3 separate regions of the Homo sapiens genome follow, and all the other regions are linked to region 1. The links come from fine-mapping of genetic effects on gene expression. A gene starts in region 1. Each other region holds a variant in brackets. All regions are shown on one strand. Distances are from middle to middle. Region 1 holds the start of MAP7D3 (MAP7 domain containing 3). Region 2 holds the start of ADGRG4 (adhesion G protein-coupled receptor G4). Region 3 overlaps MAP7D3 (MAP7 domain containing 3).

Region 1 (2,763 bases):
GACCAAGCAATGTGCTGTCAAATTGTATAAGATTAACGGTTTTCGAGGAGGGAAAAACGTTTTGGCGATGGGACTAGTTGAGGAAAAAGCACTCTGAAGTGCTGATTCCCGTTCAGTTCAGCCTAGAGACTGCAAGATGTCCCACAGAAGATGACATCTTGTTGAAGTCATGTGCTACAGCAGGCAAATCAGGAGATGCAAAGAGCCAAGTTTCATCCCAACTTTTAAAGCAACTTTTAAGCATCCCCACCCTCACCCAGCTTCCTCCCTGGACCTTGACCGGGAGGGTGCAGGAGGTAAGCCTTTGGGAGAGGCAAGGACTGCGACAGTAAAAGCGCCTAAACTCGCCCACGACCCGGGCTGGGGGATAACTCAAACTTTCCGTGCCTGGAAAGGCTGCCTGGCGGCGGAGGCGGCGCCGGCGCGCGGAGTCCCTGCGGGCGCCCGCACATCCCAGGCAGCTGTGCGTTCGTTGGGGCGGTTGCGCGGGCGGCCACCGCCCCCCAAGGGCAGATGGGGCACGGGGCGGTCCGCGGGGTCCGGCTTCCAGCCGCCCCCGCCCCGCCCGTCGAAGCAGAGCCCGTGAGTTGCCTCGCGCCGCGTCCGCGGGGCTCAGACCGTTGGCAGCGGCAGTTCGACCGTTGGCGGCGGGACTCAGGCGGCTCGCGGCGTCGGCTGACAATTTCAACCCCCCGCCCCCGCCCCTGTCCCATCCCAGGGCACTCCGGCGGGGGTGAGGGGAGGACCAGATAGCACGAGGCGACTCCAGGGAAAAGTTTTGTGGCGCCCGCTGCGCCGCTCCGACGGCCCGGGGACTGCGGGAACCCTGCCTCCCACGCGGGCCCGAACCACCCCCGGGAGCCACCCGCCCGCTCACCCATCCGTGCCCGCAGCTCTCTCAAGGATGGGCTGCCGCCAGCGCCAGCTGCGGCGCCGTCCGCCATCATCGGAGTCGGGACCGGAGGCGGTGGTGGCTCTCCGCATACATTGCGCAGGCGTCGGCGCGGCCTCCGCTTGGGTCGTGGCCGGGCTGCCGGTGGGCGGGGCGGGGCGGGGCGGGGCGGGGCGGGGCCCGAAGGGCCACCGCGCCCGCCTCGGACCTGCGAACCGGGCAGGATTGCCCCTTGCGTCCCACGTCCTGACCGGCTGGGCAGCGACTACCTGGTCTAAAGAAACCCTCTCCTATGTTCCGTGCTCTGCCCCTACTGCATTGTGAGGACTAGCCAATCAGCACCCAGCTTGGCCCCCCCAACATTCCTTTCTTCACCTTTACCTAGCAACACAGTAACATTCCTTCCTCATTCATTCATTCATTTAAAGAACATTTACGGCGTGCCTCCTGGGTGCGCTTGTATCATGAGTTTACTAGTCCTTGAAACATTACACAAAGAAAGACCCAAGTTGGGGGAAGAAGCCTAGGGAGAGGTTGGGAGTCGCAGGCTTGCTTTGAGGTGCTAGGGGCCCCATCATGAGTAGGCTTCCCTAAACTGTTGCACAATAAATCATGACACATAGGTCTCAAAGTTGGGTGAAATATCTTTAAGATGTTTGTGAGTCTTCAAAGAGAGGCAGAGGACTTATTGGCATCAATCTCTCCGGATTTTGGGAGAGACTCTACCAGGTTGCAGAATGTTTTTCCCATTCACAAGGAAAACCGTCATTGGCCTGAGGCTCCTTTAAGGGGCAGACCTCACTTCATGGGGGCTTGCCCTTATGAGGTGGAGTCACCACTGTTGTGAGTGTGTGTGTAGTGACATAGTTGTAGGCACGCAGTTTATGGTTGGGGCCATTAAGTGTGGTGCAGGAGATCCCAAAATGGGGCTGGACCACTTGTGAGATGGGCACTTTGGCGAGACCACTGAGTCTCCAAATGACATGGGAGCTGTAAAATGGAAGAAGCTAATAATAGCATATATTACATATGTTAGCAATGATAGCATAAGTTACATATATTAATATATAATATATATAATATGTAATATGGGGCAGGCACGGTGGCTCATGCCTGTAATCCTAGCATTTTGGGAGGCTGAGGTGGGTGGATCATTTGAGGTCAGGAGTTCGAGACTAGCCTGGCCAACATGGTGAAACTCCGACTCTACTAAAAATACAAAAATTAGCCGGGCATGGTGGTGGGTGCCTGTAATCCCAGCTACTTGGGAGGCTGAGGCAGGAGAATCGCTTGAACCCGGGAGGTGGAGTTTGCAGTGAGCCATGATAGCACCACTGCACTCCAGCCTGGGTGACAGAGCGAGACTCTGTCTCAAAAAAAAAAAAAAAAAAAAAAAGAAAAGAAAAGAAAAAGAAAAAAAAGACATTACGTTGCACCTACAATTTTAACAAAAATTAAAACGTGGTCAATAAGTGTTTGCGATGATGTAGATTAATACAAGTGGGGGGCCAGGCACGGTGGTTCACACCTGTAATCCCAGCCCCAGCACTTTGGGAGGCCCAGGCAGGTGGATAACCTGAAGTCAGGAGTTCAAGATCAGCCTGGCCAGCATGGGGAAACCCCGTCTCTAGTAAAAATACAAAAATTAGCTGGGCGTCGTGGCGGGCCCCTGTAATCCCAGCTGCTCGGGAGGCTGAGGCAGGAGAATCGCTTGAACCCGGGAGGTGGAGGTTGCAGTGAGCCGAGAGCTGCCACTGCACTCCAGCCTGGGCAACAGAGCGAGACTCTGTCTCGAAGAAAAAAAAAACTAGTGGCAAAAATAAACAGTTTGGCATTATAACTCCCGAAGCTCTGCTTCTAAGTAAATACAG
Region 2 (2,763 bases), 49 kb after region 1:
CTGTTGGTGGGACTGTAAACTAGTTCAACCATTGTGGAAGTCAGTGTGGCAATTCCTCAAGGATCTAGAATTAGAAATACCATTTGACCCAGCCATCCCATTTCTTGGTATATACCCAAAGGATTATAAATCATGCTGCTATAAAGACACATGCACACATATGTTTATTGCAGCATTATTCACAATAGCAAAGACTTGGAACCAACCCAAATGTCCATCAATGATAGACTGGATTAAGAAACTGTGGCACATATACACCATGGAATACTATGCAGCCATAAAAAATGATGAGTTCATGTCCTTTGTAGGGACATGGATGAAGCTGGAAACCATCATTCTCAGCAAACTGTCGCAAGGACAAAAAACCAAACACCGCATGTTCTCACTCACAGGTGGGAATTGAACAATGAGAACACATGGACACAGGAAGGGGAACATCACACACCGGGTCCTGTTGTGGGGTGGGGGGAGTGTGGAGGGATAGCATTAGGAGATATACCTAATGTTAAATGACGAGTTAATGGGTGCAGCACACCAACATGGCACGTGTATATATATGTAACAAACCTGCACGTTGTGCACATGTACCCTAAAACTTAAAGTATAATAATAAAAAACAAAAAAGAAAAAACACCACAAAGCAGAATTCATAATATAACTATGGTTATATATATATATTTTAGGGCTCTTCCTTGAAATAATTAAGAAAGTATTGATACAATCTTTTGAAGAGAGTTTTAAATTTCATTTATTGGATATATCTTCCTCTAGGTAATAATAAAAATACATGAAAGAAAAATTCATGTATTTTGGTCACTACTGCAAGAATTAAAGAAAGAGGAAAGAAACATGAAAGGTGGCTTGCCAGTTAAGACAGGTTTATTTTAAAGAAAACAAACCCGAGAGGAGCCTTTTGGCTGAGTTAGGTTAGAGGCACACTTTTTTACAGACTAAGAGTTTTTAAGGATTCAGGGTGGGAGAGTTTATTAGAGGCTTGGACTGCTTCTGTGTTTCTTTGTTGTGTTTATTTGGGAGGGATAGTTGTGTGTTTGTTCCCATACATATTTTTTTGCAGCTGCAAGCATACACCCCAAGTCTGCTTTTAGCTTCCCTATCTTAGTGCACCTGAAGGGAGAGGGAAAAAACAAAAAAAACAAAAAAAACCTTTCTGGATCTGCCTTTAGGTTCTGCATGCCAGGCAGGCCCGACTGCACAGGGAGTGAGCCGTGGCGCTCAGGACGTCCACTTCCTGGGACAGGACGGCCGGGTCACGGATCCGCGGGAGCCGGGAGGCCCGCGGGCCGC[G/A]CACAGCCCTCGGGCGGCCGGGCAGGCCAGAGCCCGAGGCCACTCCGGGCTCAGCGTCGAGCGGCTGGTCGGGTCTCCATGCATCACGCCGGGGAGGGGCTGCGGCGGGCGCCGGGCCTCCAGCGAACTGCCGCCACCGCTGCCCTGCCACTGCTGCTGGGCTGGAGCTGCTATGCCTGGCCCCGCCTAGAGCCTTTTCTTTTCTTTCTTTTTTTTTTATTATTATACTTTAAGTTCTACGGTACATGTGCACAACGTGCAGGTTTGTTACATATGTATACATGTGCCATGTTGGTGTGCTGCACCCATTACCTCGTTATTTACATTAGGTATATCTCCTAATGCTATCCCTCCACACTCCCCCCACCCCACAACAGACCCCGGTGTGTGATGTTCCCCTTCCTGTGTCCAAGCGTTCTCCTTGTTCAATTCCCACCTATGAGTGAGAACATGTGGTGTTTGGTTTTATGTCCCTGCGATAGTTTGCTGAGAGTGATGGTTTCCAGCTTCATCCATGTCCCTACAAAGGACATGAACTCATCATTTTTTACGGCTGCATAGTATTCCATGGTGTATATGTGCCACAGTTTCTTAATCCAGTCTATCACTGATGGACATTTGGGTTGGTTCCAAGTCTTTGCTATTGTGAATAATGCTGCAATAAACATATGTGTGCATGTGTCTTTATAGCAGCATGATTTATAATCCTTTGGGTATATACCCAGTAATGGGGTGGCTGGGTCAAATGGTATTTCTAGTTCTAGATCCTTGAGGAATTGCCACACTGTCTTCCACAATGGTTTAACCAGTTTACAGTCCCACCAACAGTGTAAAAGTGTTCCTATTTCTCCACATCCTCTCCAGCACCTGTTGTTTCCTGACTTTTTAATGATCGCCATTCTAACTGGTGTGAGATGGTATCTCATTGTGGTTTTGATTTGCATTTCTCTGATGGCCAGTGATGATGAACATTTTTTCATGTGTCTTTTGGCTGCATAAATGTCTTCTTTTGAGAAGTGTCTGTTCATGTCCTTCACCCACTTTTTGATGGGGTTGTTTGTTTTTTTCTTGCAAATTTGTTGGAGTTCTTTGTAGATTCTGGATATTAGCCCTTTGTCAGATGGGTAGATTGTAAAAATTTTCTCTCATTCTGTAAGTTGCCTGTTTACTCTGATGGTAGTTTCTTTTGCTGTGCAGAAGCCCTTTAATTTAATTAGATCCCATTTGTCAATTTTGGCTTTTGTTGCCATTGCTGTTTTAGACATGAAGTCCTTACCCATGCCTATGTCCTGAATGGTATTGCCTAGGTTTTCTTCTAGGGTTTTTATGGTTTTAGGTCTAACATTTAAGTCTTTAATCCATCTTGAATTGATTTTTGTATAAGGTGTAAGGAAGGGATCCCGTTTCAGCTTTCTCCATATGGCTAGCCAGTTTTCCCAGCACCGTTTATTAAATAGG
Region 3 (2,763 bases), 34 kb before region 1:
TTTATCTCCAAAGTTTATTTTATATAGCACACATTTATATGGAACTGTAACAGTGTTTCAACACAAGACATTTGTGCAGAAAAATAACAGGAACTCTTTTGTTAGGATGATTGTCTCTGTTTTATACATGAAAGAGCTAGTATATAAAAATAGTTTTTAAACCAAAGGTAACCTTCTCTATTCTATATCAAAAGTACAATACTCTGAGTGGCAAAGAACCAGGGAATCTGAAAGAATTACCTCCTTTTACTAATCCAAGACTGGCAGCCAAAAGGAACACTGGCCTGCTTCAGACTATTTACGATTCAACACTGAAAACTCATTAGGAGAATTAATCTGCATTTGAATTTTATGGAATCATATACTGTGTGTGCATACATACGTGTATGTACATCTGTGTGCATTTCTGTGTGCCCATCACACGAACTCACTGGCAGCCAGTGGCTAGAGAAAGGCAAGCAAATTTTGGTTGTATCTCAAGCCTGAGTGTATACTCAACGACAGAACTGGAGAGTACAGGCAGAAAAGTACTTTAAACATTTAGAGGAATTAAACATACCCCACGGGACAACAGCCATATACTCCTTTATGTACACAATAAAAATAATATATGTTTCTGTAGATAAACACCAATATGTCCTTCAAAAGGAAACACTGACAAGAGCATGAAAGGTGCTGACTGTTCCAAGATGGGGCTTTACAGGACTCCCAGCATTTCAGGTTATTAGTGCCTGTGTACTCACTGGCACAGATGGGTAGAGTTAAAAATATACATATATCACAGTAAAATACAATTTGCTGGATTTTGCAACCTTTGGTATTTTTATATTAGAAACAATCTGACAGCTCTTGTGAGCGATCCTGCGGCCCTTGCATAATCTATTCTGTTCTCTACAAGATCAACTGTGAGTTTTTAGCTGTCAAAATTGTCACTGGTACACAGAAAAAGCATTACTTGGCTGGGTGCAGTGGCTCACACCTGTAATCCCAACACTTTGGGAGGCCAAGACGGGTGGATCTCTTGAGGCCAGGATTTCGAGACTAGCCTGGTGAACATGGTAAAACCCTATCTCTACTAAAATACAAAAAAATTAGCCAGGTGTGGTGGCACATGCCTGTAATCCCAGCTACTGGGGAG[G/A]CTGAGACAGGAGAATTGCTTGAGATGAGGAGGCGGAGGTTGCAGTGAGCCGAGATTGTGCCACTGCACTGCAGCCTGGGCGACAGGGCAAGACTCCGTCTCAAAAAAAAAAAAAAGAAAAAGAAAAAGAAAAAGCATTACTTTAAGATTTCAAATATATACTGAAAGAGAATTAGTTCTGCAATCAGATTCTTCTAGAAACTCCACAGTTACAGTTTCAGGAAAGCATCCTTGATGCACTCACTCCAGCAAACACATTGGTGGGACAACACAAGAATGAGAGACAATGATGATTTTCCAAAGAAAACAAAAACCACTCTTTACTTAGAACTCTTGCTTAGACACAAGAGAATAAGATGACTTTAACATCTGAGATATACATCAAAGTGGCCTTTTGACAGTTTCTTTCAATTTTTCGGTGTCACTTCCTTTACCAGGTTCAAGTCAGAAGCAGAAAAATTTGAGGACTGATGGGCCCAGGAGTTGAGTTATCCAGAGTGGAAGATGTATTCATCTCCCAGGCTGAGTAAGGTTTACATATCTGACCAGAGGGAAAAGTAAAAGAAAGATCAGTAGAGAAGATGCTAGTCTCACAGCAACTTGTCCCTGGCCTCCCTTCAGGGCACACGCCCAGGACTCTCAGCAGCCCCTCTGGAGTTGCTGACACACTGGTCCTATAAATGTCCTTCACTTCCCCAGTCCCCAACCAGGCCCAAGGTGCTTCTCAATTTCAAAGAGAACTTCTCAAGGAAAGAAAAACAAGAGGCTTCTGGTTTTGGAAACAGGTTGAGGCTTATTCCGAAGACCTCCCTAATCTTCTGCCCTAAGCAACTGTCTGTGTGCTTGCCAAGCAACCAGCAGACCAGGAGCTCAGAGGAGTCTGAGATGCAAGCTTGAAAAGATCATTTTTTTTTTTGAGACAGAGTCTTGTTCTGTCACCCAGGCTAGAGTGCAGTGGCAGGATCTCGGCTCACTGCAACCTCCGCCTCCTGGGTTCAAGTGATTCTCCTGCCTCAGCCTCCAAAGTAGCCGGGATTACAGGCATGCATTACCACACCCGGCTAATTTTTGTATTTTTAGTAGAGACAGGGTTTCACCATGTTGGCCAGGCTGGTCTCAAACTCCTGACCTCAAGTGATCTGCCCGCCTTGGCCTCCCAAAGTGCTGGGATTACAGGCGTAAGCCACTGCACCTGGCCAGAACTTATTTTTTATATCCGGCCTGAAATGTGGTACATAAAAATTAGAATCAAGTCATCTACTCTCTACTTTCTCAAAACCAACTTAATGGAAGACTCTCACATCATTCCTGCAGACCCACAACTGTCTTCTCCTTCTCTTCCAAAGCTATATGGTGCAAAGACTGCCCTGGAATGGCTAGAAGGAGGGGAGCGGGTTCAGGGTCAATTGCCTTTCAAGAAAAAGGTAGATGAGATGAGGACTTACCCAAATGAGGAGAAACAGGTTTGCTTCTTCTCTTATTGTCTAAAGGTGTCTGAGGACTTTGGCAAGATGTCATGGAATCCTTCAGATTTTGTTTGTGCCTGTCAGGAGAAAAATGTGACAAAGATAGTTCTGTGTGACTTAAACAATGTTGGTGATCTTGTCACAGATACGCTGCTGCTC

The links. PIP is the estimated chance that this variant, and not a neighbour inherited with it, causes the effect.
Region 2: its variant is the best candidate, but not a certain one, in a credible set for the expression of MAP7D3 in whole blood (TOPMed, PIP 0.50).
Region 3: its variant is the best candidate, but not a certain one, in a credible set for the expression of MAP7D3 in blood mononuclear cells (TOPMed, PIP 0.90).

What each region holds. Positions count from the first base shown.
Region 1 is chrX:136,250,412-136,253,174 of GRCh38, forward strand. MAP7D3 (MAP7 domain containing 3) reads right to left here and starts at 989. Exons shown (of 19, transcript NM_024597.4): 1 at 878-989. The coding sequence starts at 947. RefSeq lists a silencer at 706-1,095.
Region 2 is chrX:136,299,074-136,301,836 of GRCh38, forward strand. ADGRG4 (adhesion G protein-coupled receptor G4) reads left to right here and starts at 1,890. Exons shown (of 26, transcript NM_153834.4): 1 at 1,890-1,927. The variant G/A (reference allele first, on the strand shown) is at 1,306.
Region 3 is chrX:136,216,815-136,219,577 of GRCh38, forward strand. It overlaps MAP7D3 (MAP7 domain containing 3), which reads right to left. Exons shown (of 19, transcript NM_024597.4): 18 at 2,584-2,681; 19 at 1-1,679. The coding sequence ends at 2,616. Among named protein-coding and RNA genes, the nearest start is that of FHL1, 21 kb to the left of the region's middle. The variant G/A (reference allele first, on the strand shown) is at 1,139.